Regions from separate parts of the Homo sapiens genome. Here all the other regions are linked to region 2. Evidence: fine-mapped expression QTL. A gene starts in region 2. Each other region holds a variant in brackets. All regions are shown on one strand. Distances are between the middles of the regions.

Region 1 (11,018 bases), 25 kb before region 2:
TTTTGTCACTATCCTACTTCAAACTTGCAGAAAGTTGATACTGTTCATCAACCCCTCCTTGAAACCCACTCTCTCTGTTAGTTTTTATTACACTACTTTCCTAGATGGCCTGTATCTGACAGCTCCATCCCAGGCTCCTTCCTTTAGTGATCCTTTTCCTTCTCCCACTCCATAAGTTTCTATCCTTGGCCTCCTATTCTTTTTACTACATATATACTTTATATATACATATATACTTGGAACAGGCTTAATGAGTTCCAAGGTTTCAAGTATAATAGAAGGATAGTTTCCCTAATATTTCTTCAAAACAGATTTCTCTTCTGAAATCCAGAGTCATATGTCCAGTTGGATGTATCTTGGATACCCCATTGTCACCTCAAACACTACTTGTCTAAAACTGATCTCATCATCTTTTCCCCAAATCCTTCCTTTTCTTCTATTTCCCTTCCCAGTGAATGCCAGATCTCACTCAGTTGCTCAAACTAAAAGCCCAGACTCTTCTTTTTCACTATTTAACCAAAAGCAGTTAGTCACCAATCAAGCCCTCCTGATTATAATCCTCTCAAATCTATCCTTCTTCTCAAATGCCACTTCTCCTGACCTCATCACTTTCTCCTTGGATGACCATAGTATCTTTCTAATATATCTCCTTGACTCCAACTTGGTCCTCTTCACTATACCAAAATAACTATTAAAAAATGTAAATTTTATGAAGTCTGCCATTTTATTTAAAACTTCCATGATTATCAGGTTAAAGTTAAAATTCCTCTATTTAGTATAAAATAATTTCTATAATCCAGCCACTACCTAAAACCCCAACCTCATATTTAGCTAATTTAACAAGCATGCTTTTATCACTCAGACACATCTGATACAAACTACTTTGTCTTCCTCCTAACCGCTCCATTTCCCAAATCTACTGGACCTAGAAGTTAATGGGAACCACCAGTGCCCTAGAAAACAATGGCATAAGTGCTTATCGCTATCCCCACTTCTCTTCCACCAACTCTATTTACATACCAATTCTTCTTACAAAAATCTTTGCAGAGCCAACAAACTATTTTACTATTTAAGGCCATACATTATCTGGTACTAAGATATGTGAACCCTTGGGAGACATGCTTTCATATATTAAGGTCTATATTATCAAGCAGCTGTTATGATAAAATTCAATAAAGATTTATCCAGATAGAAGCTTTTATATAATGGTGGCTACAGAAGCAGACAACTGGCTACAGATCTCAAATTCTATCTTAATCCAAGACCAAACAGGTGTAAATGTTAGTTCAGAATCTACATTTGGATTCAGTTACTAAAAGTTCCCTTAAAGAACTACCCCAAAATATCTGCCAAATTATCAATATGACCACACACTCTAAGCTAAGATTAAAACAAATTCAAGCATGCCCAATCATGATCCAGGAAAAACTGGAAATATGATCCAACATTATAGCAATATGCATTTGCTAACAATGGCTCACTGTCTGCAGCACTCTCAGGGCATTAGTAAGTCTGTGAAGAGCTACTAAAATTTCTATGGGTGTTGAAACTTCATCTACTTTGAATAAGTTGAATCCCATTTTCACTTTTAAATAAAGGTTTCAAACAATACTAGAATAAAGGAAAGAATGGAAAGCAACTGTGATTAAAGAAAGAAAGAAGAGGCTGGGTGGGAAGCAGCAGCAAAGCAAACATACATGGCCTGGTGGTGCTTGCATTGGTCGTTTCAAGTCATTACGTCCTCTGCAGGCTCGGATCACAGTTTTGTGACGATGCAAATGTATTTCAGCTTCTAATTGGTTCCAAAGCTTATCATGAGCAGGTCCCTTCATATCTCGTCCTAGCAATTGTATCTGTTGGACCCTTCATATTGGGAAAAGAGTACATTGATTTTTCATTATATTCACTACAGTGAGAATTCAGGAAAATTAGTGAACATAAGTAGCTTTTGCATGAATCTCAAATTAGTGATAAAACTAATACTCACGAACTTCTTGATGTCTCTCAGATATAAAAAAAATATGAAAACTCTGAAAAGAACAGGTATCCTCAAGGGAAAAACCAGTAAAAAAAATTTTTAAAGGAATTAATGTGAACTCCTTTAGTCATATACTTAATTCAAATAAATCTAAAAAAAAATTTATGAGATTAATGTCAATCTATGTCTTGCATGCAAAGTCACTGAACTCAGATACTATTAAATGTTAGCTTTTAGATGAGATAAATGGACAAAAATATTTCTTCTAATTAGAGTTTCTTTTCACAAAATGATTACTTTAAATGTGGTTAAAAGTTACTAGAACCAGCCAGGGCAACAAGGCAAAACCTTAACAATTAACCAGGCATGGTGGCATGCCTGTGGTCTCAGCTACTTGGAAGGCTGAGGTGGGAGGATCACTTGAGCCTGAAAGGTGGACGCTGCAGTGAGCCAACGTTGCACCACTGCACTCCATCCTGAGCGACAGAGTGAGACCCCATCTCACAAAATTTAAAAAAAAAAAAAAGTTACTAGAAAATTTGTACTTCAAGATGATATAAATTATTTTTTCTTTGTTCCATGTTTTTAATGTGACATTAAAAGAATATGCACAAAATGATTTAGTACTAATAAGTCACCAAAGTTTGTTAATAATTTACTTAATAAATACAGCAGAATTCTGTGTATGATTATGATAAAATCATTGTCATTAACTAAATACCAACACGTTTTTTTGAAGGGCAAGAAAGACTGGGTTTCAGTGATCATAAAAAGAATTCCTTATGGAAGTTCTGCTATGCATGTGAATATCGGCTGTACTGGTCTCAAGGCACAAAATAGTTGAAAAGTGCTGCTCTACAGAGTTGTTAGCATTTCACAGTAAGATACTATCAGTGTTTGTGTGTGTAAACTAAACATATTTAGTATGGATAACTAGATCTGCGATACATAATGCTGTCAGTATTAATTTAACAACAGTAAGTTAAAACCAACTGTAAAATAATTCTGAGGAAAAAGATTAATGCTTCATTTACCATAAGAAAAAAGAGTAGGCCAGGTGCGGTGGCTCACACCTGTAATCCCAGCACTTTGGGAGGCCAAGGTGGATGGATCACAAGGTCAGGAGTTTGAGACCAGCCTGGCCAACATGGTGAAACCCCATCTCTACTAAAAATACAAAATTTAGCTGGCCGTGGTGGCAGGCACCTGTAATCCCAGCTACTCAGGAGGCTGAGGTAGGAGAATCGCTTGAACCCAGGAGGCAGAGGTTGCAGTGAGCAGAGATCATGCCACTGCACTCCAGCCTGGGCAACAGAGCAAGACTCCATCTCAAAAAAATAAAAAATAAAAAAAGAAAGAAGTAAGAGTCAACCTCATTAAATATCCAATTTGTCACTTAAGAGTACAATAATACCCATTTTTTACACACCTTCCTGCCAGTTCCTTATCCAAGTACTTGGCAGCTAGTCTCGCCCCATATACTTCAGCCTGGAGAACAGCTATATGTCTACGAAGGGCTTCATTCTCTTTTCTCAACAATTTCACTTCAGCTTCAAGTTGTGCTTCTTTCATTTTTTCTTTTTTGTTTGCCTCAAGCTCTCTTTCCTATGTAATTTTTAAAAGCATATAATTTAATGAAAATAAAAACTCTTTAGCACTAGACCATGTTCCTGAAAATGCACAAAAGCCTACAGTTCAACAATGTATCATCTCTATAAAATGGAACACAAAGATCTGGATGTAGTTCTTTTGAACTAGTACCATAACATCTTGGAACTACTTCTAGATAAAATAATTGCACGCCATGGGTTACCCTGATATGGAGTATAGTAAGAAAAGTAGTCTACTCTAAGCTCATGTTATCACATATTAGTAAAAGTGGCTTCAATGGATAGTTGAATCTGCTATTTACTTCTAAAACCCTTTTGAGAGTTAAATAAGGACCCCAATAGACATTTTAACTGTTATTTATAGATCAAAAAAACCACGTAAACACTGAAAACTTGCATTTATCCTGAGCAGAACTGCTTTTACAGAATCCACAAATCCTATGAAAACATGGTTACATTTGTTCACAATATGTGGAAGACATTATTCCCTATACCCCCTTTGTCCCTTTTGTGAGGACGTAAATAAAAACCTACCTTAGCACCAGAGAAATTGTTTCTCTTGAGGAAATGATGAATAGTATTGTTTCTATTGTATGGGCACTGATTATTTTACATAATTATTTCCCTTTTTATTCTGGATATTGAGAAGCTAAGAAACAAATTTAAGCAAATTTTCAGCAATTCATGGAATATATTTTGGTACTAATTTAATGTGCCTCCTTTGGTCTACTGTTTTGAACAACATCAAAATAGATATATTTGAATACTAGTCAATAAATACGATAATCCTAAAAAAAATATATTTACATATACACACACACATACAAGCTAAAATTAATGACAACTACTAAATGCTAGATATATTTATCACTTCTTTGATTAAAAATATTTGTTATATATATGACAAACAGATGAAAGATTAGCAGACTCAATTTCTGGGAAAAAAAAGATTAGAACGTAATTTCTAGATACTGGTTTTAAAGGATTCGAAAAACTCAATCTAGAATCCTCCTTTTAACATAATTTTGGAATTATTAAACTCTTATTTCAGAACCTATGTCCTAAAAGGGCAAGTATCTGTTTCAAAAGAAACCAGTTTGGAGATACAAACAAAAATCTTTCTTATGACATGTTAAAGTTGATGCAACTTTTGAAAGAGCACTCCTAGACCAAGATTTCTTTGGCTTATGGGCTAAATAAACTTTATGTTGATGATTACCTACTTTCAATTACTTTAATGAGCTATTTATACTACATTAATGAAATGTGGGAGACATACTAAGCTACCACTCACTGGGGTTTTAATGATTCAAATCCCTAATGAATCTGACAAACTCTTGGGCCCGAAATTAACAGAGGTAAGCAAGAATAAGATGAAGGAAACTGAAGTTAACCATTTCTAGATTTCCAGAAAAAAATTTTCTTGGTTCTTAGTTAACCTGTTTGTTACTAGGTAACACCCAAGATGTTCATTTTACATTTAGATACCAAAGATTATATCTTCAAAAGAGGTAAAGCCATAAGACAAATTGGAACTTGATTAGGTTGGGGTAATGAGAAAAATATTAAAAATGTATTGTTATTTTCTAAAATAACTTCTGCTAAAGCATTTCAAAATTCAATTGTTTCAAAGGCCATACGATTATTCTCAAGACTCTTGAAAAGTTGTAA[C/CACAT]GCAGTAGATGAAGAAGAAACCAACATGCACATTCTTTTCTGGAAATAATTTCAAACAGAAACTTAAGGGGGTTAAAAACTAAGCCTGCTTGATATATCTTCAATACCCTGAAGTGGGAAAACCAATTGCTCTTTGAAGTAGAGGTATGAGCAAGCTACAAGGCTCAAAAATTGTCAAAAATTGACAGGCTCTGCAAATAATGGCTATAAATCACTAACAAAAGAAAAATGTTTAACAACATGCAGTGAGAAAAGAGCAATGGGCCATCCACTGAACTTTTCAGGTACTGGAACATTAAAAAATTGCCATTATTAATGCTATTTTCAAATACAATGAGTGACAACATATAATATGCAAATAAAACACTAAGAACACTTCAGCGTGACATATTAAAGCAAAACAGAAACAATATACTTACCAGCTCCTCCACAGAGGGGCCAGACTTCAGATATAAGAAAAAAGTTTTATAATTAGAAAAAGATCAAACAAATGATTTTATTTAGTGGTATAGTCATTATAAGGAAAAATCCCACATGTTGGATATCATTTGGGTAAAGTTCATTAGAACAAATATATTTGCAATCTATAAACAATAGTAACTGTAATAGCATTAGATTAAAACTTTTTGTTTTATCAAAATTAGTCAACATAACTGGTACAGTGTTCTTTTCATCATACTCTTTCAAATTCTAATGTTAAAACTTCAGGTAAATTCTTTTCTAGAGAAAATTTAGATTGTTTCTGAATGTTAATGTCAAATAGCTCGAAGAAGCAGTTATGAGCTTTTATTTCAGTTAAATAAAACCCTTCTAACACAGATTCACAGAGTTAGAAAACTTAAGAGTTTAACTTAAAATTATTTTCATGAATTTTAACACATCAGTACTAGGAACTAATTAACCAAATGAAATTAACTGAAAACAAATAAAACTTATAAATGTATTACTCTCATTATATCATCAACATCATTTCATGTCCTGCCTCTGCCAAGCAATAGCTGTCTTATTTATTGCTGTGTCCCATATAGGAACAAAATATCTGCTATCTCTTACACACTCAAAACATATGTGGTACACAGTGGCAGGAAAAATGCTTACAATATATTAAGAGCAAAAGAAAAGAATGTGCTACTGGTTGGTACCCAATTCCATTTCTTACTTCTTCCTTATTAACAGACTCCAGTTTTACTGGAAGTGGCCATATGGCCAATAGGAGACTGACATGCAGCTGGGGATGGTCAATGAAATGCTGGCAAAAATTACTGAGAAAGATTTAATAATAAGTTCTTTAAAGAAGGCTAACATCATGGAGAAGCATCTTTTTGCCCTTTCCTTAGATTAATCCTTCTTCCTGCCTGAAATGCAGACATGAAGAAATCCTGAGGATGGAAACCATAAGCTAAAAATGGCAGAGCACAGTGATGGAAGGAATCTGGATCTCTAATATTTGTGGAGCTGCCGTATCAACTCTAGACTGCCGGTCTCAGATTTCATTTCAGAGAAAAATAAGTACTGTTCAAGAATAATCCCAATGTTACTTGGGATTTCTGTTATATGCAACTGAATTTAATCCAACTGATACAGTAGGGCAAAAAAAAATCTTATATGTTATAATCACAAATATCTTTTAAACATATTTATACATATATTTTAAATAGGAAAAATTCTATCAGTTGATTGTTGATATCACTGATTATCTATAGGTGATGAGATTGTAGATTATCATAATGATCATAAACTTTATATTTCTTATATTTTCTAAATTTCCCACAATAAGCACATATATTTTATAATTTAAAAGTCTCATTCAAAATTGTCCTGTACACCCTGTAAAATACATGCAAGGGCATGTCACTCTCTAAACTACTTACCAATTTTGCCTTAATGGTACCAGAGTCAGCACTTTGACCAGTTTTAGCATGAAGCTGCAGCTGAATAGAGTGCAGCTGTAAAAGCTGATCATGTACTTCTTTCTCCAAAACAACTTTCTCTGCTTGGGTTTCTGTCAGTTCAGATTTCAGATCCACCAACTGTGCCTTATAAAGAAAACAATAGAAGAAATTAAGGATGCTTAATTTTCTTTCTTTTGACTAATAATTGTTATTCAAGAATGACAACAGAGAGACTACCTTTGAAATAAATACACAAACATTAGAATAATATTATCCAAGATACAAGACATCCATCTAAACTGACAGAAAATCAATAGTATAAGTCAGATATTTCGGTAGCAAGAGAAATCCACTATAAGCTGTATCTTCTAATAACACAGAATGCTACTTCCATTTTACTTTGCTTACTTTAAGAAACCTTTTTACTGTTTCACCTTTATCTTCAAAGCTTATGAAAACACAAAACTATGAGGTGGTTCACCATGTGGTAGAGACAATGTGTGCTGTGGTGGATCACTAACATTAACAGTATTAGAGAAGATGTCAGTAAGTGAGTTGTGTTCTGTCTTCAATCCAACGAATACTAGCCCAAATCATCCCAATCATTATCTAGTAAAGTTATTTTAGGTGCTAAGGTATCAACTTCTGAGACTATGGTAAGCCTAAAGATCAGAGTTAACTGTAAGTCTTCAGCTTTAGCATAGCAGAGCAACTCATCAGGACCACTTACCAATTCAGTCTGAAGTTTTCATTTTTGTACAATTGATACATTGTTTTACAATTGTGCACAGGATGTGTCCCTTGTGTTTTTGGTTTTCCCAGCTAGCCAGTAGATTAAAGATCAAGACATGCCTTTGTTTCCTATTCAACTCAACATAATTTTGCTAAGCATCTAAGGGCCCAGAACTATGCCAGCACAATGAGAAAAAAAATTGTAGATAATATTTTTAAAAATCATAGATCATAATTTATGCCCTTGACAAGCTTTCATATCAACTGGGTTGATAAATACACATGTGGACCAACTAAAATAATGTGGCAAGTTATATACAGAGAGAGAACTGACCCAGTCCCAAGGAATTCAAACTAAAGGAAGGCTTAAAGAAGGGAAGTAAGAAAAAGATTCATACTGAAAGTGAGTTTAGAAGGGCTTTGAAGGAAAACAACAACATGGACAAAATAGAAGCAGTAATGAAATATAGACATGGGAAGACTAGCAAAGGCAAAGTGGCAGAGAGACTAAAAGCCTCTCTGAGCATAGATAGGGATCAGATAATTGGGATATGTCTCTATATCCCAACTGCACCAACCAGTGCCTAGTGCATAAAAGATGCTCAAATTTAAGTATCTGTAAAGTTGAAATAAATTCTAATACTAGCCCTGTGATTCTCAATAAAACATTCTGTCTCAAGTTCCCTCAGTTTAAAACAGTGATAATATCCATGGCTTTGACTATTCTCATAAGATTATTAATCTTATATACAAAAGAACTTATTAGACTAGGAAAATGTTATTATCGAGGAGACTAAACTACCTCAAGGGATGGTATACTGACAGACTGGATATGACCCGATAGGAGAAATGAAGCTGAATACAATGAATGGCTTTGGATGATAAACTAAAACTGATATTCAATCTAACAGGAAATCATTCTATGCCCTAAGTGACATTTTTTGTTTTTATTTTTAATAACACCTTTATTGAGATATAATTCAATATCATAAAATTCACTCTTTTAAAGTAAATAATATAGTGGTTTTTAGTATATTCATGAAGTTGTACAACCATAGTTACTACATAATTTTGAAGCATTTTCTCTCAATGGCATTTTAGCAACACTATTAAGGAAATGAAGACAAGGACACAGTAGCAACGTCCTATTTGTAGCTTATCAAATGACATGTTATCATGGTAACTTTGTAAATGAAAATAAAGGATTTTACAATGCTGAAAAGAAATCGTTAGCAATACTTAGTTACAGTGTATCTAGTACAGTGGATGTGCAATGGAAGATTAGGTCAAGAATAATGCAAGTATTTCCAGTTTTGAGAATAATGAAGCCATTGATGGAAACAGTAAGATTAGGATGACAGCTTATATAGACATGAGAGAAAGAAAAAGATAAATTTAAGTTTTAGGCATGCTGATTTTGTGTCAACCATGATATAATCAACAGGAAATATTCCACAGAATGTAGGAAATAAAGAAAATAAATAAGTGAAAAGGTAGGATCTGGATTAACACTAGGAGCACAGAGATGTGAATTCATATCCTATGAGTTACAGGGAGAACAGAGTATCAAGGTCTGGGATGGCCCAAGAGGTAGAAGAAAAGAAGTAGCATGCTATAAATTAACCAAGATGTGGCATAATATAAATAGTGGGCTGCCTCTTGCTTTTTTACTTCCTGGAGATCACTCCCTATTAATAAAACTTCTTCATTCCTTTTTTTTAAATAACTTTTTAATTCATATATAAACATATCAGGGAAGTACACAAGTAACACATTACAAAAAATACCTATTTAACTATCACTCAGATCTTGAAAAAAAAAAAAAGGGCAGTGCTAGCACCCCAGGATCCTTCTTTTGACCCGCTCCAATCACTACCTCCACCTTCATCCACAAAGGTAACCATCAGAGTATACACTGACTTCTAACACCATAAATAGTTTTGCCTATTTTTGAATGTTTGAGTATGCTTATAAGATTTGTTCATAGCTTGTTTTGCATAGCTGCACTTCATTTTCAGCAATATTGTATTCACTAAATAAATATATAACATTACTATTTTTCATTCATTCTACTTTCCCTCAACTTAATTCTACTTCTCATTCTATTTCATTCTACTTTGGATGGGCATTTGTGTTGTTTTGAATTTCTGACTATTAAAATGATGTTGCTATGAATCTATCTTTTGATACATATTGCATATATTTCTCTTGAGTATATATCTAGGAGGGAAGCTTCTGGGTTACAGAGTATGTACGTTAGACTTCAGGAGAAAAGGTCACTTTTCCAAGTGATTGTAGCAACTGACATACCCACCATGTATAAGAACTTTGAGAGCATCATATCCTTGCCTTCACTTGGCATTGTCAGTATTTTTCATTTTAGCAATTCTGGTAGGGATGCAGTGGTATATTGTTGTGGTTTTAATTAAAATTTCCTCATTGCTAATAAGGTTTAACTGCCTTTTCATATGTTTATTGACCATTTGAATACCCTCTTTTGTGAAGTACCTGTGTTAGTCTCTTGCCTATTTTTCTAGAGAGTTGTCCATATTTTTCTTGGTGGTTTGTAAGTTCTCTCTCTCTCTCTCACTCTCTCCCTCCCTCCCTCTGCCTCCCCCCCTACACACACACACACACACACACACACACACACACACATTGATAGAGGCAGGAGGCAGAGAAATTCTAGGCAGATGGGGGTGTGTCCTCGGCAAAACCCCATCTTCAAGCCTAAAAGCTGAAGCCCAAAGTGAGAACTTCCATCCCTGTGTGCCCACTCTCTCCCGACTGGTTCTTTCTGAAAAAGGTCTTTTTACCAATCAAATGTTGTTTTTTCTAAAACTACCTATGGCCTGCCCTGCCCCCCATCCTGTGCCAGTAAAGACCCCAGACTCAGCCAGTAGAGAGGAGAAGCAGCTGGACTTCGGGCACAGGCATCATGACTTCAGAGATGGTAGCTGGACATCGGAGAGAGGCAACTTGACTTCAGGGGAGAGTGACATGCCCTTCCCATCCCCTTTCCAGCTCCCCTCTCTGCTGAGAGCCACTTTCATCACTCAATAAAATTCTCTGCATTCACCATCCTTCAATTCATGGATGAAGGATGGTCAATGCAGAGAATTTTATTGAGTGAAT
Region 2 (11,018 bases):
TTTTGTATCCTGAAATTTTGCTGAATTCATTTACCAGTTCTAGGAGCTTTATGGATGAATCCTTAGGGCTTTGTAGGTATACTATCATGTCATCAGCAAACAGCAACAGTCTGACTTCCTCTTTAACCATTTGGATGTCCTTTATTTCTTTCTCTTGTCTGATTGCTCTGGCTAGGACTTCTAGTACTACATTGAATAGAAGTGGTGAAGGGGGGCACATTCTTCAGATAAAAAGTTTCTCTTTTTTCTTCCACAGTGCCACTACTATTCCAATCAATGCCTATGATTCTAGCATAGCCATGATCAAGTGGCTCATGACAGCAAAAACTCACAAGCATGTGGAAAGTGTGAGAGATGTGAGCAATTTGAAATGGCACCACCTCAAAATACACTGATATTCTCTGCTATTCCATTCTCCTCAGATATGACTCTTCCCAAATATTGCTATGGCAAAAAGCAGTCACATGGATATCATTTGTATTTAATTTTAAGATGTAATCTATGTTCTCAAAAAACTAAAAATAGAACATATACACTAGGGATATATGCCCCCTAAAAAGGAAATCAGTATCTTGAACAATATGTGCACTCCCATGTTTATTGCAACACTATTCACAATAGCCAAGATACGGAAGCAATCTATATTTCCACAACAGATGAAAAGATTAAAAAAAAAAAAGTGGTATATATACACAAAGGAATACTACTTAGCCATAAAAAAGAATGAAATCCTGCATTGAAGACCACATGGATGAGCTTGGAGGACATTAAGTAAAAATAAGCAAGGCACAGAAAGATACATAATGCATGTTCTCACTCAAATGTAGAAGCTAAAAAAATTGATTTACCAGGCATGGTGGCCCATACCTGTAATACCAGCATTTCGAGAGGTTGAGGCAGGAGGATCTCTTGAGCCCATGAGTTCAAGACCAGCCTAAGCAACATAGTAAAACCCCATCTCTACTAAAAAAAAAAAAAAATAAAATAGAAAAATTAGCTGAGTATAGTAGCTCATGCCTGTAGTCCAAGCTACTTGGGAGGCTGAAGCAGAGGGATCAACTGAGCTGGGAGTTGGAGGCCACAGTGAGCTATGATTGCACCACTGCACTCCAGCCTGGGTAACAGAGTGAGGCCCTGTCTCAAAAAAAGAAAAAAAAAAGTTGACCTCATAGAAGTAGAGAATACAACAGTGGTTACTGTTAAGTTGGGAAGGGTGAGGCGGGTAGGAAGATGTTGGTTAACACAGCGGTCACCAATGTTTTTGGCATCAGGGACTGGTTTTGTGGAAGACAATTTTTCCACAGGACAGCGTGGGGATGGTTTCAACAAAAGACATTAGACTCTCACAAGAAGCTGGCAACCCAGATACCTCGCATGTGCAGTTCACAACAGGAACAGGATTTGTGCTACTATGAGAATCTATATGAGAATCTAGTGCCACCACTGATTTGACAGGAGCCAGAGGTCAGGCTGTAATGCTCTCTTGCCCACTGCTCACCTCCTGCTGTTCAGCCAGTTCCTAAGAAGCCACGGACCAGTACTGGTCCACAGCCCGGGGTAACAAAATTATGGCTAAATAAGAGGAAAAAGTTCTAGTATTCTATAGCACCATAAGATGATTACAGTTAATAGTAGCTTAATGTATATTTTCAAACAGCTAGAAGAGCAGGTTTTGAATTGTTTCTAACATGAATAATGTTTGAGGTGACAGATATGCTAATTACCCTAATTTCATCATTATTATGTGTATCCAAATACCACACTGTGCCCCCTAAAAAGATGCGACTATTATGTCAATTAAAAATAAAAAAGAATAGCCCTAATAGCCTATTCAAGTAAAAAAGTAACCTATGATTTTTTTGCAGCAAAATTTAATATTTTAATAATAAATATAGTGTTTAATGTTAACTACATTATAAATTACCCAAATTGGAGGTATCTGTTTCTTCATTATATAAAAATATTTTATTACAGTAATATGATTAAAGGTATTAACCTCTGAAACCACTGAATGTCACGTTTGTCATATTAAACCATAAGTGGTTTCAAATATGTCTTAATGTCCATATAATTAAAACAATAGAACAAATTCAATCCTTTTCCTAAAAAGTAAAAAAGGGCAAGAAAATATGGAAATTGTTTCAAGCTTTCAAACAATATATGGAGCAACCACTGAAATTCTGTAGATGGAACAGCAGCAAGTCTACTTTGAAAGGCACTGCTGACAATGAACTTCTTTCCACAGCAATACACAATTGATTCCATAAAAACGGCAGAAGCTGCTAAACGTGTACAGATTAACATCAAAGACAAACAAGTTGACTGTAACTGAAAAAACACAAACAAATGAACAAACAAACCAAAATCATTAGGATTTTTCCCCTCCCCATTTTCCTATGATCTTTAAATCAACAGTTTCAAGCATAAAAAATATGCTCACATTGTGATATGCTAGCATTTCCTATTTTGAGAAACAATGCAACCTCCTAAACCAGGACATAAAGTCAGAATGTGTGATTTTAATTTCTGAAAAAAGAACATGCATAATTTATTACAATTCTGAATACTCATCTAAAATATTTAAAGACAAAAAAAATGGAGCACAGCCTCCTACTGAGAAAATTATCCTTCCTCCCAATTTCAATTTTTATATCTGACATCAAATCCCTGTTTAAAGTTTCCTTAGGTCATTTTAAAAATAAATAAAATATTGTTTCATTTTTAAAAAGTTGTTAATGCCCAGTTGATACTGCAGTTGTAAATGATATGAAATTTCTCGTGTGATGTTTTAGTCCACTTTCTGTTTCTTATAACAGAATACCAGAAACTAGGTAATTTATAAAGAAAAGGAATGTATTTCTTACAGTTATGGAGACAGAGAAGTCCAAGGTCGAGGGGCCAGATCTCGAGAAGTCGAGAGCCTTCTTGCTGGCAGGGGATCTGTGCAGAGTATGGAGGCAGCATAGGGTGTCACATGGCAAGGAGGCTGAGCATGCTAACATGCTTACTCAGGTCTTTCTTCCTCTTCTTATAAACCACCAGTTCTACACTCCTATGATAACTCATTCATCCATTTATCCAATAACAAATCAATCTATAAGTGGATTAATCCATTCATAAGAACAGAGTACTCATGATCCAGTCTCCTCTTAAAGGCCCCACATTGGAGATTCAATACTGTCACATTGAGGATTAAGTTTCCCATACACGAAATTTGGGGGACACATTCGAATTATACCATGTGGTAAAGGCTACTCTTGATCTTTGTTGTTTAAAGCTAGAGAACTAATGGCCAGGCACAGTAGCTCATGTCTGTAATCAAAGCACTTTGGGAGGCCAAGGCAGGAGGATCACCTGAGGCCAGGAATTCAAGACCAAACTGGGCAACAAAGCACTCCATCTCTTTTTTGAAAAAAATATAATAAGATAAAATAAGATGAAATAAAGTTAAAGTACTATTTCTAGAAAACATTAAATGCAATTTCACTATCTGAGAAAAATAGCTTTCTTGTGGAAATTACTACCAATAAAGAAATCAAGAGATGTTTTCATTTACCTACAGTAAGAAGTGATTACCTTCATATTAGCACTTTCTAATCTTTTCAAAAAGGATAGAAGAAATTAACAGTTCTCGCAGTGGAGAAGAGCCACAATTCTTGGATATGTAAATCTATGTTAATCAAAGATTAATTATGCCACATATTTCATGGCTAATAGGAGAGAAAGAATGCTGACCACTAGGCAAGGAGAGGATGTTTAACTGACATTCATATTGATATAGATATAATGGGCACTGTCAATGACAACGAGTAATGATGATTTCTTAGGAAAGCATGTTCAGAGTTTTGCACATCACTGATTATCCCATTTTTATCTATTACACTTTTTGAAAAGAAAGACCCATTCTCTTAAATTGCCTAGTTAGAAAGTACTCTTTATGCAATAATGTTAATCTATCTTGATTTCTAAATATTTTAATAATGTCCTTTTTAAATTTTCTGCACAATATGATATTTTTGTTTTTTTGAACCACAGCCACTCCACCCTCACCCACACCCAGGATCAGAGATTAAAGCAAATGATTCTTTACACTCTCTCAAAAATAAATCCAGACTTTGGAAAATTACACAGTAATGTACAAGCATATAAAAACTCAAGGTCAGAAGTAATTTCAATAATTGCAGGGAGCTCTCTGGAGGTATCTGCCTGTAATTTAACAACCAACTATGGATGTAAACCGAGACAGTGATACTATCGTTATGCACCACGAAATTTTCCTAAGAGCTTTGATCAGATTCCCCTAAATAGTTTATGCATGTCTCTGTATGCAATCATAGGCGCTGACCTGGAATAATTAAAATGAAAATAATCAGTGCTGTATCTGTCTTAACATATACAAATTCGGTTTATCAATGTGAAAGCAGATCTGCAAAACTCAGTTGTCAAAAGGTGGCCTACGGTATTTTCATGACAGAGAATCTTTGTTAGGTTTGTTAATGTAACATGTGCAATGGAGGCTGGTGTATGTAATTAGTTTCCTCCTCAGAGAGATACTAGGAAGGTGGACGACAGTACCCCGGGAACTCACACGTCGGTCTAGGGCCCTTTTTGTCCCCCACCCTCACCTCACTCCTCAGACATGCACTCTCCCATCACATTTGAAGCCCCGGTGGGCAGTTTTCTAGGGTCGTTTCACTGGAGCGTTAAATGGCATCTGACGCCACCGGGCAGCCTGGGGTTGGATGCCATAGCCGCCAGCACCCACGGCTCACCTCCAGCTTGTGGTTGATTTGAGACACAGACTGGGCTTTGTGGCAAAGCTGTGCAAAGCAGGAGCTCAGGCTGGTCATCTTCTGTCGCCCCTCATAAGTGATGTCCGCTTGGTCTGGATCGATCTCTCCCAGGAGCAGATCCACATCCACAAAAGCTTTGTCGAACTCCTTCTCCAGCACCTCCAGCCACCGGAACATGGATACCCCGCCAGGGGCCCCCACGGAGCAGGAGGCGCCCCCTGGGCCCCCTCCGGCTGCTGCTGGGCATGGACCGCCCGCCGACATGGCGCCGTCAAGGGCCTCTCCCGACTGCTGAAGACCCTCGCCGCCCCCCGCGCACGAAGGGAACTGCTGGGACTGAGGGGACCCCCGCGCGCGCGGGCACACTCCGTCACCTCCCTTCACCTCGCGCCGTTAACGCCAGCAGCACAGTCACAGAACCGCAGGAGTAACGAGGCTGAAGCTGAGGCGGCAACGGCGGCGACACACGGAAGACTCAGTCAGTCCCACCTCCCAGCCTGCCCCCGCTGCGCATGCGTAGCGAAGAGCTGGGCGGACGCAGCCACGAGGGACAAAATAGGCGGGGACAGGATGCGATCTTGGCCTATGAAAGGCCTCAGCTTGGGAGCGGCCTGTCAGCGGCCATATTAACAACTGGCAAACTACGGCTTGAATCCCTGAGAAACGGAGGCGCGTGGTTTCTGCACCCTGGTTGGAAAGGCCCGAGGATGAGAAAGGTGTCCACGTCGCAGAAAGGAAGGATTTCCGCCGGTTTGACTTAACAGTTGGCGGGAGCCGTTCCAAAATCCTCCCAGAAAGTTGCTGCGGTGGCATCTAGGGTCAGGGAGGGGAGAGCAAGGAAGGGCGGTGTGAGCATGCGCAATAGCCACGTTTTTACCTTCTCGATTCCAGTTCCTGGATAGGATGGAGTGGGTGTACACACTGGCTGTTCTTGGTAAACCAGACCCCAAATTCCAGGTGTGGACTGCCTAAAGCTGCGCATTGAAGCGGCTGACCAGATTTTGCGGAATTAATAGAAGACTTTTTGTCTTGTGATTAAGAGTCAGGTAGACCTGGATTCAATTCTTACCCTCTGTCACATACTACCTGTGTCGCCTTTCATGTATTAACCTCGAAACCAAGTTTCCAAATTTTACTTAACTCAGTTGTAAGGTAAAACGCTTAGCGTCACTTCTTGGCACACGGTATTCCTCTTAATACACCATAGGTCACACATTTCAAAAGCAACTACAGTAGTGCTTCACTTAAGATGGGGATATGTTCTTAGGAATGTGTCCTTAGGTTAATCATCCCTTAGGGAACATCCTAGAGTGTATTTAAACACAAACCTAGATAGTATAGCCTACTACACACCCAGGCTATATGATGTAGCCTATTGCTCTTAGGCTGTAAACCTGTACAGCATGTTGCCATTCTGGATACGGTAGGCGATTATAACACAGTGGTAACTATTTGTGTACTTAAACATATCTAAACATAGAAAAGGTACAGTCATATACTCTTATAGGATCACCATAGTTTATGCGATCCATTCATTGCTGAAGCCTTGTTATTTGGCACATAACTGTACTTTAAAAGGTGTATTTATTTGAAAACTGGTAGTGTCCTCACACGTGACATTTCAGAAAATCAAAATTGTGAATTCATATATTTACAAATATATTGAATGCAGAGCTCTGTTGCGACATTGAAGACACAAAAATGAATGAGACATGACCCTTACTCAAGATAGGCTAGTGAGGCTACTACCCCTCAACTATAACTTTAACTTGAATTTTTCAGTGCCTTTAAAAGTATCCAGCAACTCCTCTCTTTACATTCTGCCTACTTCCAGTTCAAGGGTAGACAGTCCTAGAAAGGGAAAGAGAAACCTGTGTGATTAGAGTAGGCTGGTGGAAACTCCTGCATTACCTAGAAGCATATTTAGCTGAGTGCAGTCTGCTGTTATCTGTTCTTGGGGCAGACCCTTACGGTTAATCACAACCCAAAGCCTGCATTGTGTGCCCTTCGCTGATGCAAGGCAACTGAGGAGCAAGAAATCACAATTTTATTATTGCAGTCTTTGTACTGCATGGCAGACTGGTTAGCATGAAGCAATAAAGTCCTTTGGCTTGAGCAAACTTAGCTAATCAAAATGGATCATGAGATCCTGACCTTAGACTTAAGTAGGGACCTTCATACAGGTTTTAGTACACAATAAATAATGTAAAACTAAAATTTACATCTTTCCCCATTCCCTTCCAAAATTAGCTTTATTTTCATCTACAATATTTGCAAAAACATTGCTACAGCTATCAAGCTCCCAGCCACTTTATCTACACATAATACAGTTAGCAATGCATTTTCAGGAACGCGAAGTAAATAATTTAAAATTAGCAGGGCAGGGGGAGAATACATCGAACCACAATTATAATAGCTTTCAATTATTGAGTCCTTACTATGTGTTAGGCATTATGCTATTTTCTTTAATTCTTTGATCCTTACAAAATCCTATGAGGTAGGTATGATCACGTCTTTTATTGTTGTTGTTGAGACAGGATCTTGCTCTGTCGCCCATGCTGCAGTGCAGTGGCACGATCACAGCTCACTGCAGCCTCACTTTGTTGACCAGGCTGGTCTGGAACTCCTGGACTCAAACAATCCTCCTGCTTAGGCCTCCAAAAGTGCTGGGATTACAGGTGTGAGCCACCACACCCAGTAATCACTTTTTAACAGCTAAAGTCACAGACAGCTTAAGTGTCTTGGTAAGGTCACAAAACTAGAAAGAGATTGAGGTAGTATATCAATCTAGGTGTCTTTTTCTCCTAAGTTGTTGCTGTTAACCATGTAATACAGAAGAATGAAGGAATCTATTTCTTCTTGTAAAAGTTAGCAGTATAATAAACTAGCAAGTAAGTTCCAAAAGTTCTTTTTAATTTCTTCCTAGTTAGAAACCATATACAAATCTATTAACATATAAGAACCATTACCAAAAATTGTAATAACTCATTTTCTATTACTTGTAACTCTAATTTATATGAACCACACTTGAGTATAAATTTCATTTCTTTAAAAAATCAACTTCCAGCTACATTGTGTGGGTGCAGCTGAGTGACATTTTAAGTGTTTATATGTTTCCAGTGCTCTAATGGTTTGTGGGTACCCCCATTTTCGAGATTGCAGAACCCAGCTTCGTATCTATTACCTTTACAACTTCAACAAGTCATAGACTCATCTGTGTCTCAGACGAGTTTCATGTCATGTTGTCCCTTCTCATTACTGTAGTATGTAGACATAATCTTTTGCCCACCTGGATTGAGGTTATGCAAATCTGCAAGTCACAGCAGAACATGGATGTGAAAAGGAGGGCTTATCATCGGGGCTTGATGTTCAAGTGCTGCCATCTGTTGTCGGTGTACTCTATCTACACTTACTGCCTTATCCTTACCTACTCTGGAATTGGAGATTGCATGTAATGTCAATACTTGAGCGATTTGTTTTTCCACAGATATTAAAGTCTTGATACTTCTATTTGCAGTTGGATTGGCAGAAGCTTCCAATAACTGTTTTATGAATCATGCTTATGTGATTTTTAAAAAATATAACTTAAATGTGACACTCTTGTTTTAGGAACTTATCCCTACAGAGTTTTGTCACAAGGCATTACTAAAAATAAATTGGTTGGAGACTGAGGAAATTGGGGAAAGAGAGATGATGCTAAGGGTTTCTTTGATAGGTACTGGTAATTAACTGCGGGGTCAGTGTATAGTTTAAATATTTATGGAGCATCATTGATTGCAAGGGCACTGTAATAAAAGGGTGTATAAGACCCACCTTGGACTGGAGAGGGAGATTATCACTTATTGAACTCTACTGTGTTCCAGGCCCTGTACCTAACTTCACGTGTTTCATTTAGTTTCCAGTAACCCTACCAAGAGAAGGGGTTAAGTATATGCTGTTAGTGGCTATAACAAGTTGTATGTATGGTGAATGAAGAAAGTAAAAATCCACTAGCATTTTATTTAATCAATGTAGGAAAGGTTTGGAGTGTTGTATTCATACATATTATTTATATTTATTGAATTTATTATTCATATTACCAACAGTTTTGAAAATTTCAGATACATATGCTAAAGAAGTAAGTTTAGGAATCCAAAGGGATTTATTAGCCTTATTCTCCTGATTATTTCCCTTATATAAACAAAGGGATCTGGGTGTGGCGGTGTGCACCTGTAGTCACAACTACTTGAGAGGCTGAGGTGGGAGGATTTCTTGAATCTAGGAGTTTGAGACCCTCCTGGGCAACATAATGAGATCATGTCTCAAAAACAAACAAAAAACAGGACAACTGTTTGCTCTCTTGTTTTTAAAACTTGAGAATTTTGGTACAGTGATTTAGAATTAGCTCAGACACCTCCTCTTCCAGGAAGCCTTCCTTCTTTCTCCTCATATGATGCTATGGGCTCCATCCCCAATTAGTTTCCTGTAAATATCTTTTACCGCATTTATCATATTATTTTGGAGCTTGTTAGACTGTGAGTTCCTTGGCAACAATAACTGTATCTTACTTATCTTTGTATCCCAGGTCCTAACACAGGACCTAGAATGTGGTAGGAATGCTATAACTATTTGTGTGATAACTTCAATAATTAAGGTATTCGATCATTCTACCTAGGAAACTAACAGTCACTTCACTTTTCAAGACATACTTGTGATACATGCTAGAGAGCATAGCTAAATATTAATATATTTTTATATTGCCTCAGAGATTAGGATATCTATAAATTACATATTAGTCTTTCTTTTCCAAACCTAAAGTTTTATTTTACAATGATCTGGCTTATTTGACTAATAAATCCATTATAATTTAGGCTTCAAGGATTCTTTTGCTTATTCCATTGTTAAAATTTACTAGATACTATGTTTTGTATAGTATATTCAACCTAAAACCAAAACATAATAAATTTTACACTATCAAAGACAGACTATAACTGCTTTTCCCCTTTTCCCCGATGTACATTCTTCATCTACCACTTCCCACAGCTCCAGGTTTGCTTCAGCCTTGTCTGAAACCACCATTTATCAACAGTAGTATCAGAGTTTCCTACTCATGTTTTCTTCTTCTTTTGTCCACTGTGAAGTCACTGTTTATTTCTCAAGTGTCAGACTGTATGGATCAAACATAGACTTTCCTTCATCACCTTCTGTTTTTTTTTTTATAAATTAGTCTACTAAGGGCCTCCGAAACAGTTGTATTCCAAATACCCTTCAACAATAATTATTTTTTCGAGTTTTGACTGAAAAGTATAAGTTATCTAATTAGAAATTTCAGCTGGGTGCCATGGCTCATGCCTGTAATCCCAGCACTTTGGGAGGTCGAGGCAGGCAGATCACCTGAGGTCAGGAGTTCGAGACCACCCTAGGCAACGTGGTGAAACCCCGTCTCTACTAAAAATACAAAAGTGAGCCAGGCGTGGTGGCACTCACCTGTAATCCCAGCTACTCAGGAGGCTGAGGCATGAGAATCACTTGAACCTGGGAGGCAGAGGTTGCAGGGAGCCGAGATTGCACCATTGCACTCCAGCCTGGGCAATGAGAGCGAAACTCCGTCTCAAAAAAAAGAAAAAAAAAAGGAAAAAGAAAAAGAAACTAAAAGTCAGAAAAGTGTAGTGAAACTATTACACAAAAAGCTCTATCACAACAATTGCTGGAGATAGTATTTGTTTTGTCCCCAGATGATTGTAACTCACTCAGAATTTGTTTGGCTTTTGTGGCCATGGTGAGCAGAGGGAGTTAGGATGAAAAGACTTCTATAGTGAAAATTTGTCACTACATGTGGGATACTCTCCATATTTGAGCTCCCTTCCTCTAGGGAATTTCCCATTTTATGTTACTTGGTGAGAGAGAGAATTCTTCTTCCATAATAAGCTGAAAATGTCAGATGATCACTTTCCTGACTCTGTGACAGGTAGAGCACAGGGCTGTGACCTAGACTCAGCTAACTAGAATTATCCACCTGAAATTTTTAACATGGAGATAGTGAGGCAGGATTGGGAGCATTCCTTTTGGTAGGGATTGGAGAGGGAGTGAAGATAGCAGTTTCAGCAGCAGCCATGCTAGTGTTGGTGTTGTGCTAGATTCAGGTTTGTGGTAGAGGCTGGTGCACTCGTGTTCTGTAGTGGCAGCAGGAATGGTGTCCTCACTCAACTGAGGTGCAATTTTGCAATTTTGCTTGTGATTCTGACT
Region 3 (11,018 bases), 87 kb before region 2:
GATACGGGATGCCCTGAGCCAGGAATTACGTTTTATTCATGCTCTTTTATTCACCTAATATTTAGCATCGTCTTACAATTGCAGATGTTCAGTCAGTGTTTTAGGACTGAGATTATAAGTAGCTTGATTTTGGCAAACATATTAAAAAATCTGGATTTTTACAAAAGAGAAATTGGAGTGTCATTATTCACACTGTAGGGAAATTTACACTAAGATTCCTCTATAAACATTCCCTCTGCATTTAAAGAAAGCTTTGGTTTACATAAAATTTTAAAACTATGCTTATTATGTGGAAAAGACCATGTAATAATGTGGAAGGTGCCTGTGAGTGAGCATTCAACTATGTGCGATGCACTGGGCTTAGTAAACCTTAGCGTTACTACCTCATTTAACCCTTATAACAGCCCTGTGAGATAGGTCCTGTTACCAACCTTTACACCTAAGGAAACTGAAGCTCAAAGAAGGCCAACTAACATGCTTGTAAGATCACTTAGCGGGACCTGGGATTCAAGTCTGGGCATTTGAGGCCCTGCTCAAATGCCCAGAGGCCCTACTCTTTAGCTCTGCACCATCCGATTCAGTGTTTGTGTTGAAAGCCATCTGTTCCTGTGGCTTGTGCATAAGAAGACCTGAGGTGTAGTTCTTGTTCGTCACTTGCTGGAAGAAATGGAAACTTCTCCAGGCCTCTCCACAGGAGTATCCGGAGAATAAAGTGGGAGTCTGAGAAATCACTTACGTAGAGTTCCAGTATAAGTTGAAAGTTCAAAAAATGTTTTTTAGTCAAAATGCTAAGAGGAGGCATGGTGGCCAGTGATAGAAAGAAACTCTTTACTATAGGATCCTAATGGAAGTTAAATTGGTTGTGTTCTGCATAATGATTTGCACCAGGAAGTTCAAAAATTGTTCTCCTACGTTTTCTGTACCTCCACTTCCAATCACAATATTTTTTTAAGCATTGTCAGTGACTTAGAAGCACAATCATGTGAAGTCAACTGTTAATGTTTATGTTACACTAGGAATGAGAGAAATAGGAATAGTTGGAAATAATGCGAAGTGGTTAGACTCATAATCACAACAGGTTTCTGCATGTCATTTTTTAGAATGATACATATCTGACATATTGCAATAAGATCTAATAATTACAACTTATCTGTTGAAGTTTTTTAAATCCCAAAGAGGGGAAAGCGCAAGATTGACAGTCTCTGTTTTACAAATGGTTTATATGTCTCTCAGACATATTATGAAGTAGAAGGAAAAATTTTTATGGCTTTTAAAGATAAAACAAATAGACTTCAAGGAAATTTCCAGCTCACAGAGAGCTGTTTTGGGCTGCAGACACCCTAGAAGTGCGTCCTCCTCTATGGTTGAGGCTACTTTGGTGGAAATTATTGAGAAGGACTGCTTTTTCTTTGTTTGTTTTATTTTGCCTTTTATGCCAAGATAGAATTCAGAAAGAATCTTGAACATATAAAACGTTATATCAGCCAGAATGCTGTACTCTAGGTATTTTTTTTAACACAACCATAAGCCTCAAGGAGAAAAAGCTATTGGGTTCCTCCTCCTCTTTCCCCATAAATACTTCCCTGGAGACTCACTGTGATTCAGTTTCAGTAATTGCCATCTTTCATTGGGAGAGAAGTAATGGCTTAAGTGGGTTGTGAACTCCCAGCGTTGACACACTTCTTGACCTGGGTCCTGTAGCCCCAAGGAAAGCCACACCTTTGTCTAAGAATCCGCCTGCTTCATTTATCATCTGTCACTGATTTTTGTGTGGGAATGAGAGACCAAAATTCTCCAGGGATACCACTTACTGTTACGTGACTATGGTTTTAATGGCACAGTCCAGGAATATCCCTTTTTTATGCTAATTTCTCTCCTTTTCAAAGAAAATGGCCTTGAAAATTCTGTAATGTTGTACAATGACCCTACTGCAATTAGCAAGCAAGGACAAATCTGCGATTTGACTGCATCAAAAACAAATTGAAAATGGACACAAATCTAATGGTGTTTGCAGCTTCAGCATTTCTGGAGATTGTTTTATCAGCATACCTCTGAGCACAGATCTGGGCCACGAGAAGTACCACTCGCCTGGCAGCCAAATATTCCATGTGGCTGTCTCCACCCACATGTACTCCCAGGGAGGGTCACTTAGGTCAATCAGGCATGTTCTTATCTGTCATAAGAAAGAATTGTGTGCTTCAGATGATGCTCCAGAAGGTTAATGAGGGTTTTTTGGAGGTTTTATGTTGTTGTTGTTGTCGATTTATGACAGACCTTTCAGGAGTTAGGTTTTTATTTGATCTCTCAGTGGTTTTTCCCACTGACAGTATGGTAGTTAAAAAAAAAATCAGAAATAATACTACTAAGGGAAAGAGGTTTCTTTGTTTCTCTAATGACATGCATACTATTTTTCAAACATGTCCCTTCTATATATAAAACAATAACTTAGTTTTATTAGTTTTAAGATCAAAACCTTATATCCATCTGAAGTGACTTGGAACAAACAGTTTTTAACCAAACCATCATTGCCTTGTAATGCCCAGAGTCTTGGGCACACAGTCCAGGAGAATAGAGAAGTACTATACATTGCTGTACAGATTGTCAGATTGCCAGAGAATCAAGAGGATTTCAGACTTGGCTTGTAGCAGACAGTTTATTCTTCCTTATAGGACAGCTTTCTTTTATTCACACATGGAAAGATAAAGGGTTTCCCTTGCAGCTGCTAATGAAATAGTAGCCCGAAACAGGGAATGTGCTGAGAGGAACTGACCTACTGTGCTCAAAGAAGGCAACTCCTACAGTTCCTGGCCCTTTATTCCCTTTGTCCAAGGAATCAGCCCATTGTCTGCTGGAGTCTCATGTCTGGTGCCAAATGCCACAGTGCTGTTCCATTTGGTATCTCTGATAGCTCTTCCCACAATATAGGGCCGCCAGTTACATTCCACAAAAGATAAAAGTTTTTCTTTTTTCCTGATTTTTCTGCCTACTTGATTAACTGCTGCACTCCAGTGTGATGGGAATTTGTGACTGCAAAGTAAGATGGAACCTGCCTTGCAGACAGGGATAGATAGAAGTGAGAGAATAGTAGGAAGTTAGGTGGCAAGTCCAAGTGCTATAAAACACGTAGCACTGCTGGTTCTGAAGCAAACATCCATGCAAAACTGTGCATCCTATTTTTAGGAAGGGGTTGGATTTCAGTCTGACTGAATTGAAGTATTTTTGCCAATCTAAGAACACTGCCTGAGCCCAAGAATATAACCACAATCAAAGTTAGAAGTCACCGCGCTCTCATGTGGGTTTCCAGTGAAATTGTCTTTGTAAACATTTAAATATAGGTGTAGATCCTTTTTAAAAGTCAGGAGACCTTTGGAGAGTACCAACAGTGAAGTATATCACGTGGGCAGGGGTGAGTGGAGAAAGATTTTCTTTCATAAGACAAGAGATTATCCTTAAAGGAGTCTGGCGGAGCACTGAGGACATTGCTTAGGACAGACTCCCAGGGTCTTTCCGTGGTTTCCCATTAATTATTTTTCCCTCTCAATGCTATCATATTTTTCCATTTTTCTTTCTTGCCTTTTAACTCTAGGAATGTAATTATTAACTTCTAGTCTATGAAAGGAATTTTCGTCTGTCAGACCTTGAGACAGGCAATAATTTGGATGTTTTGCCATAGGCAATACTACAGCCAGTATTCAACTCTTATCCCCCACCCTGAATTAAAACTCATTCTTGCTATTCTGATGTTTGTGATTATGATGAAATGATCAAAATAACTCTTCAGACCAGGCGCTGTGGCCCATGTTTGTAATCCCAGCACTTTGAGGAGGCTGAGATGGGAGGATTGCTTAAAGCCAGGAGCTTGAGACCAACCTGGGCAATGTAGTGAGACCTCATCTCTACAAAAAAAATCAAAAAATTAGCTGGACATGGTGGCACACACCTGTAATCCAGCTTCTTGGAAGGCTGAGGTGGAAGGATTGTTTGAGCCCAGGAGGAGCCGTGATCACGCCACTGCACTCCAACATGGGTGACAGAGAAAGACCCTGTCTCAAAAAAAAAAAAAAAAATCCTCTCAATGATGATATTTATATAGAGAGGGTATCTCCTACCCCTCTAGTTACAATTTTGCAGCACAGTAATAAAAATATGAAAGGGATTGATGTCTGTGTGGTAAGGGTAATTAAAGGGGCATGTGTTTACATTTTCCTTCTTTGATCTGCTTCCAGAAATAGTTACATGCCTATCATAACTGGGAGGATGAAACCAAATTAGAGTTTTACTATATTTACATGTTTTTGGTCTAGGAAATCATATATATTGCACAACAACTTAGTATGATGGTATACACTCTCATTTGTGTAAAATATGTATACTTTTTGCAACTTTTCCTTTCAACTGTTTCATAAAATCTAAAAAAAAAAATCTAAGCAAGTTCTCACTGATAATCAATTTAGACTTGCTTACCTTACAGTTTGTGGGTTTTTTTTTTTTTTTTTGAGACGGAGTCTTGTTCTATCACCCAGGCTGAAATGCAGTGGTGGGAT[C/T]GTGGCTCACTGCAACCTCCACCCCCCAGGTTCAAGCAATTCTCCTGTCTCAGCCTCCCAAGTAGCTGGGATTACAGGCACCCACCACCATGCTCGGCTAATTTTTTTTGTATTTTTAGTAAAGATGGGGTTTCACCATGTTGACCAGGCTAGTCTCGAACTCCTGACCTCCTGACTCCGCTCACCTTGGCCTCCCACAGTGCTGGGATTACAGGCGTGAGCCACCGTGCCTGGCCACCTACAGTTTTCATTAGAACTCATTGGAATGCTATAGAAATTTAAGGAGAGATTACTATCATCATCACCATTTGGGGAGGGGTGTATTACTGGGTTAATATAAAAAAATGTGATTTGAAAATATTCTAACTTATTAAAAGCAACAAGTTACTAGTTACTTCACAATATTCATCCTTAGGTTTACAAAGCAAGTGTCTTCACCCCTCTTATCTGTGCAAAGAACAGAGGAATTTCAAACATATCTAAAACAAACAGAATAAGTTGGAAAAGGCAAGTACAGCAATCTGACTCACCTTAACTTTGCAAAAATGCTTATCATTCTACTTATTTAGTCTGAATTGCCTATCTGCTGTGCTTGTGAGCAAGAGTAAAGTTTATAAAAATCCATATTATTCATTACAGAAATTTTTTTCTTGTTTCTTTACACTTCTCTTCCTGACTTCTCCATAGTATTTAAAAGTGACACGATTAAAAATATTTTATGAATCTCTTAGTTGGATTTGGCTTTTAGAAACTGTTGTAAAAAGAGCATTTCAATTCAATTCAAACTGTTTGTGGGAGGCTGTCACCTGCCAGGTACTATGCAGTCTGTTGGAGATAAAGGGATGGATATAAAAGTTCCTTGCACTATGGAACACAGTCTGAAGAGAAAATAGGTATTACTTATTTTTTAATATATTCATTTTTAACAAGCACTTATATAGCTCTTACTATGTGCTGAGTACTATTCTAAGTAATTTGAAAGTATTGGTCGGGCGCGGTGGCTCACACCTGTAATCCCAGCACTTTCGGAGGCTGAGGCGGGCAGATCACGAGGTCCGGAGATCGAGACTATACTGGCTAACACAGTGAAACCCCATCTCTACTAAAAAAAAAAAAATACAAAAAATTAGCCAGGCGTGGTGGTGGGTGCCTGTAGTCCCAGCTACTCAGGAGGCTGAGACAGGAGAATGGTGTGAACCCAGGAGATGGAGCTTGTAGTGAGCCGAGATCATGCCACTGCACTCCAGCCTGGGGACAGAGCGAGACTCCATCTCAAAAAAAAAAAAAAGAAAGTATTAACTCATGTAAGTAATTACGTATGATGAGTGTTTCTAAAGAGGGAAGTGAACATCTTTTATTTAGATTTCACCATAATTTAGTGATAGGAAATGCTAGAAATTTGGCATGTGAGGGTAAGCATATAGCATTTCTTTCTTATTCTATCACATCTTCAGTATGTGAAACTTGAAACAGAGAGAAATTGGATCCTTTATACCAGAAGGGCAATGCTTAGTTGGGTCACGATCTTCTGACTCTTTAGCATGTGTATTGGTCCATTTTCATGCTGCTGATAAGGACATACCTGAGACTGGGCAATTTACAAAAGGTTTAATTGGACTTACAGTTCCACGTAGCTGGGGAAGCCTCAAATCATGGTGGAAGGCAAAAGGCACGTCTCACCTGGTGGCAGACAGGAGAAAAGAGCTTGTGCAGGGGAACTCCTTTTTTTAAAACCATCAGATCTCATGAGACTTATTCACTATCATGGGAACAGCATGGGAAAGACCTTCCTCCATGATTTAGTTACCTCCCACCGGGTCCCTCCCACAACACGTGGGAATTCAAGATGAGATTTGGGTGGGGACACCCAAACCATTATCATTTCGACCCTGGCCCCTCCCAAGTCTCATGTCCTCATATTTCAAAATCAATCATGCCTTCCCAACAGTCCCCCAAAGTCTTAACTCATTTCAGCATTAACTTAAAAGTCCACAGTCCAAATCTCATCTGAGACAAGGCAAGTCCCTTCTGCCTATGAGCCTGTAAAATCAAAAGCAAGTTAATTACTTCCTAGATACAATGTGGGTACTGGCATTGGGTAAATACAGCCATTCCAAATGGGGAGAAATTAGCCAAACAAAGGGGCTCAGGCCCCATGAAAGTCTGAAATCCAGTGGGGCAGTCAAATCTTAAAGCTCCAAAATGATCTCCTTTGACTCCATGTCTCACATGCAGGTCATGCTGATGCAAGAGGTGAGTTCCCATGCTTGGGCAGCTCCACCCCTGTGGCTTTGCAGGGTACAGCCTCCCTCCCCACTGCTTCCACAGGCTGGTGTTGAGTGTCTGTCGCTTTTTCAGGTGCAATGGATCTACCATTCTGGGGTCTGGTGGCCCCCTTCTCACAGCTACACTGGATGGTACCCCAGTAGGTACTCTGTGTGGGGGCTCTGACCCCACATTTCCCTTCTGCACTACCCAAGCAGAGGTTCTCTATGAGGGCCTCTGCAGCAAACATCTGCCTGGGCATCCAGACATTTCCATACGTCTTCTGAAATCTAGGTGGAGGTTCCCAAACCCCAATTCTTGACTTCCATGCACCTGCAGGCTCAACACCACATGGAAGCTGCCAAAGCTTGGGGCTTGCACCCTCTGAAGTCCTGGCCCGAGTTCTACGTTGTCCCCTTCCAGCCATAGCTGGAGCAGCTGGGACACAAGACACCAAGTTCCTAGGCTGCACACAGCACAGGGATGCTAGTCCTGGCCCAGGAAACCACTTTTTCCTCCTAGGCCTCTGGGTCTGTGATGGGAAGGGTTGCCTTGAAGACCTCTGACATGCCCTGGAGACATTTTCCACATTGTCTTGGGGATTAACATTCAGTTCTTCATTACTTATGTAAATTTCTGCAGCTGGCTTGAATTTCTCCTCAGAAAATGGGATTTTCTTTTCTATCGCACTGTCAGGCTGCAAATTTTCTGAACTTTTATGCTCTGCTTCCCTTATAAAACTGAATGCCTTTAACAGTACCCAAGTTACCTCGTGAATGCTTTCCTATTTAGAAATGTTTTCCACGTGATACCCTAAATCATCTCTCTCAAGTTCAAAGTTCCACAAATCTCTAAGGCAAGGGCAAAATGCCACCAGTCTCTTTGCTCAAACATAACAAGAGTCACCTTTGCTCCAGTTCCCAACCAGTTCTTCATTTCCATCTGAGACCACCTCAGCGTGGACATTATTGTCCATATCGCTATCAGCATTTTGGGCAAAACCATTCAACAAACCTCTAGGAAGTTCCAAACTTTCCCACATTTTCCTGTCTTCTTAGCCCTCCAAACTGTTCCAACCTCTGCCTGTTACCCAGTTCCAAAGTCACTTCCACATCTTCGGGTATCTTTTCAGCAGCACCCCACTCTACTGGCACCAACTTAACTGTATTAGTCCGTTTTCATGCTGCTGATAAGGACATACCTGAGACTGGGCAATTTACAAGAGAAAGGTTTAATTGGACTTACAGTCCCACATGGCTAGGAAAGCCTCAAATCATGGTAGAAGGCAAAAGACATGTCTCATATGGTGGCAGACAAAAGAAATGAGCTCGTGCAGGGGAACTCCTTTTTTAAAAAACCATCAGATCTCATGAGACTTATTCACTGTCATGAGAACAGCACGGGAAACACCTTCCCCCATGATTCAGTTACCTCCCACCAGGTCCCTCCCACAACACATGGGAATTCAAGATGAGATTTAGGTGGGGACACAGCAAAACCATATCAAGCAGTTTTGTCCCTATTGGTTCTGGTTAATATAACCCGGTTTTATTCGTATTGACTTGGAGCAGTCTTTTTCTTTTATTCTTCTTCCTTCATCATGATTGTTGTTGCCGCTGACTATTTCCATACTGTTTTTGAGAAAAGTTAATAAATAATACCTCTCTTCAAAATTTGCTTGCTAATCTCTATTTCATAGAGATTGTCTTGCGTATGTTACTTTCGAAATGACAAGTTAAAAGCTAAACTTCAGTTTGAGTAGTCTTAGGAAGAGTTTTCGTTATTTTAAGCTCCAAATGTAATTTTGCCCTTTGAAAGTTCATTGAGATCCCTATTGCTTTTCAAGCAACTTATTTTGGAAACAATGTTATACCCTTAATTGTATAATTTTGTACTATAATATTTCAAAATGCTTTAGAAATTATTCTGCTTTTATGTACATTTTATAAATCAAAATGAATTTTGGGGATTAACCAGAAGTTACTGTAAAGGAAAATCAGTGTGTATGCTGCATGTGAATGCTGCATGTGAATAAAATTCTTACCATGCTTTGCAAAGTCTTTTAACTTTAAAACTTCCCCGAAAAAATGATTTTTTTAGTTTATTTGAGCAAATTTAGGAGGCCCCTAGAATAACATTTTTGTAATAAAATTTTCTTTACTACCTAATGTGTTTGACCTTTGTCTTCTTTTTACAAAAAACAAAACCTATCTCTTGGGTTGCTCACAGTTAACTAGTTCCAGCCTATTGCTTGTCTAGAGTAAGCCACTTTCCCCCTTGGCTTAGTTCACAATCAGTCAGAAATTATCAGTCTGAGCGTCAAGCTAAATTTCAGTTGGTAAAGATTATAATCATACATATGTATTGTCTAGTAAATTTGGCCTTTCAAGGAAAAAAATGCCATATACCAGTCATTTGTGCTGGTATAAATTTTGAAATGTGCCACAAGTGTGCTTTGTTTTTAGGTCCATACTGTGGAAGTATGACTGTTCCCAAAGAACTCTTGTTGAACACAAGTGAAGTAACCGTCCGCTTTGAGAGTGGATCCCACATTTCTGGCCGGGGTTTTTTGCTGACCTATGCGAGCAGCGACCATCCAGGTATAACGGAAGAATCAACACAAATCTCTAAATGTTATCTGTCTAAGAATTCCTCTTGCCACTTATCCCCATCCCTGGACATAATTGTGGACTCAGATGCAGAATTAAGATATGAGGGAGAAGAGGAACATGGTATCTTTGTAAATGGTTAGGTCTGAACTGAATCATATTGCAGCACAGGTGTGTCCAATCTTTTGGCTTCCCTGGGCCACATTAGAAGAAGAATTGTCTTGGGGCCACACATAAAATACACTAACAATAGCTGATGAGCTAAAAAAAATTTGCAAAAAATTTTTATAATTATGTTTTACGAAACTTTAGGAATTTGTGTTGGGCTGCATCCAAGGCCATCCTGGGCTGCATGTGGCCCAAGGGGCATGGGTTGGACAAGCTTATTAGCATGTTAGATTGATCAGTTGACTTATATGGGATAGGATTCATCTCATTTTTCCTAAAAACCTTGGATAACACACTTTTGTGTTCCCCTCCTGACCCTTCGAAGTCTTCACTATTCTCTGGAGCCCTCCCCCATCCTCCTCCCTAGCTCAGGGGCAACGCTTTTCACCAGTGAGCCCCTCCGCAACACACGCCAGTACACCAGCACGGGAGGCATGCACAGTGTGTGTAGGATGAGGAAGTCAGTGTCACACAGTGTAATAACTTTAAAGCTGAAAACTTGTATGGGAGAGAAGGGAAGGGAAACACGAACACTGATGAGAGAGAGAAGCACGGGCTCCTGTCCTGGGCTCTTGTGCTTCAGAGTAATTCTGTGCAGCCCATACCAAATCTGCCTATGGTCATAGAGGTTTCTGCTGTCAGTCCTCTCTGGCAGAAAAGCTCTGGGAGTGAGGTGCGCCATTCATTTTCCTCTTAGCCAATCAGCTCTGACTAATCACAGCAGATGCCTGCATTGCCAGTGTTCACCATATATTGCTCCCAAAGAACTATTACAGTAAGTGTGGAATATTTTGGAAACCATACTATGTTGATCTAAATGCATCAAGGTCCACTGTATCTTAGCCTCTATTGCTGAATATTAGTTTGGTTCTGTAAATTACTCCAGAGAGCACCTTCTTTTTTAAAATGCTTTGTCCTGGTTGATGAAAGCTTATATGCTGTAGGTTTTCTTGGTAAAGATGTGCTTCTCTGTCACCAGATGCCACTGGCTAAATTGTTGAATTAAAATGTTTGTGGGAACCTTCTCTGTGAACTGTGTTGGGCTTTTGAAATTATTTTCTTCCTGCCAGGGGACATTATACACATGGTCTTCATAGGCATATAGTGGATAGCAACTAAAGAGTATTGTTTTTTTCTGTTAACTACAGATTCTGCTATCATTTACTAGGTGATTGTGTTGAAAAACTGTCATTGGTGGCAGAAAAAAGAAACGAAAGGAACTCATTAAATACTGGAGACAGTGATTCTCAGTGTTTATTTTTAAAAGGAAAATTCTGATAACTACATAGTGAATAAATGCTTTTTAAAAACTCTTTTATTTTAAAAGAAAGCTTTGCAGCATGAGTGTCCTAGTTTTTATTCATTCTATTAATTGCAATTATCTTTATTTATGACAGATTTAATAACATGTTTGGAACGAGCTAGCCATTAT

The links.
Region 1: its variant is fine-mapped to the expression of GOPC in skeletal muscle (GTEx, PIP above 0.99). The same link has a PIP of 0.9 or more in esophagus muscle and tibial artery.
Region 3: its variant is fine-mapped to the expression of GOPC in whole blood (INTERVAL, PIP 0.99).

Annotation. Positions count from the first base shown.
Region 1 is chr6:117,571,770-117,582,787 of GRCh38, forward strand. It overlaps GOPC (golgi associated PDZ and coiled-coil motif containing), which reads right to left. Exons shown (of 9, transcript NM_020399.4): 2 at 7,131-7,295; 3 at 5,679-5,702; 4 at 3,408-3,583; 5 at 1,698-1,863. Among named protein-coding and RNA genes, the nearest start is that of GOPC, 25 kb to the right of the region's middle. The variant C/CACAT (reference allele first, on the strand shown) is at 5,260.
Region 2 is chr6:117,597,232-117,608,249 of GRCh38, forward strand. It overlaps GOPC (golgi associated PDZ and coiled-coil motif containing), which reads right to left and starts at 5,280. Exons shown (of 9, transcript NM_020399.4): 1 at 4,773-5,280. The coding sequence starts at 5,057. It also overlaps the pseudogene NEPNP. RefSeq lists enhancers at 5,162-5,251, 5,382-5,671.
Region 3 is chr6:117,510,542-117,521,559 of GRCh38, forward strand. DCBLD1 (discoidin, CUB and LCCL domain containing 1) reads left to right here. Exons shown (of 15, transcript NM_001366458.2): 3 at 9,275-9,409; 4 at 10,984-11,018. Among named protein-coding and RNA genes, the nearest start is that of DCBLD1, 33 kb to the left of the region's middle. The variant C/T (reference allele first, on the strand shown) is at 4,545.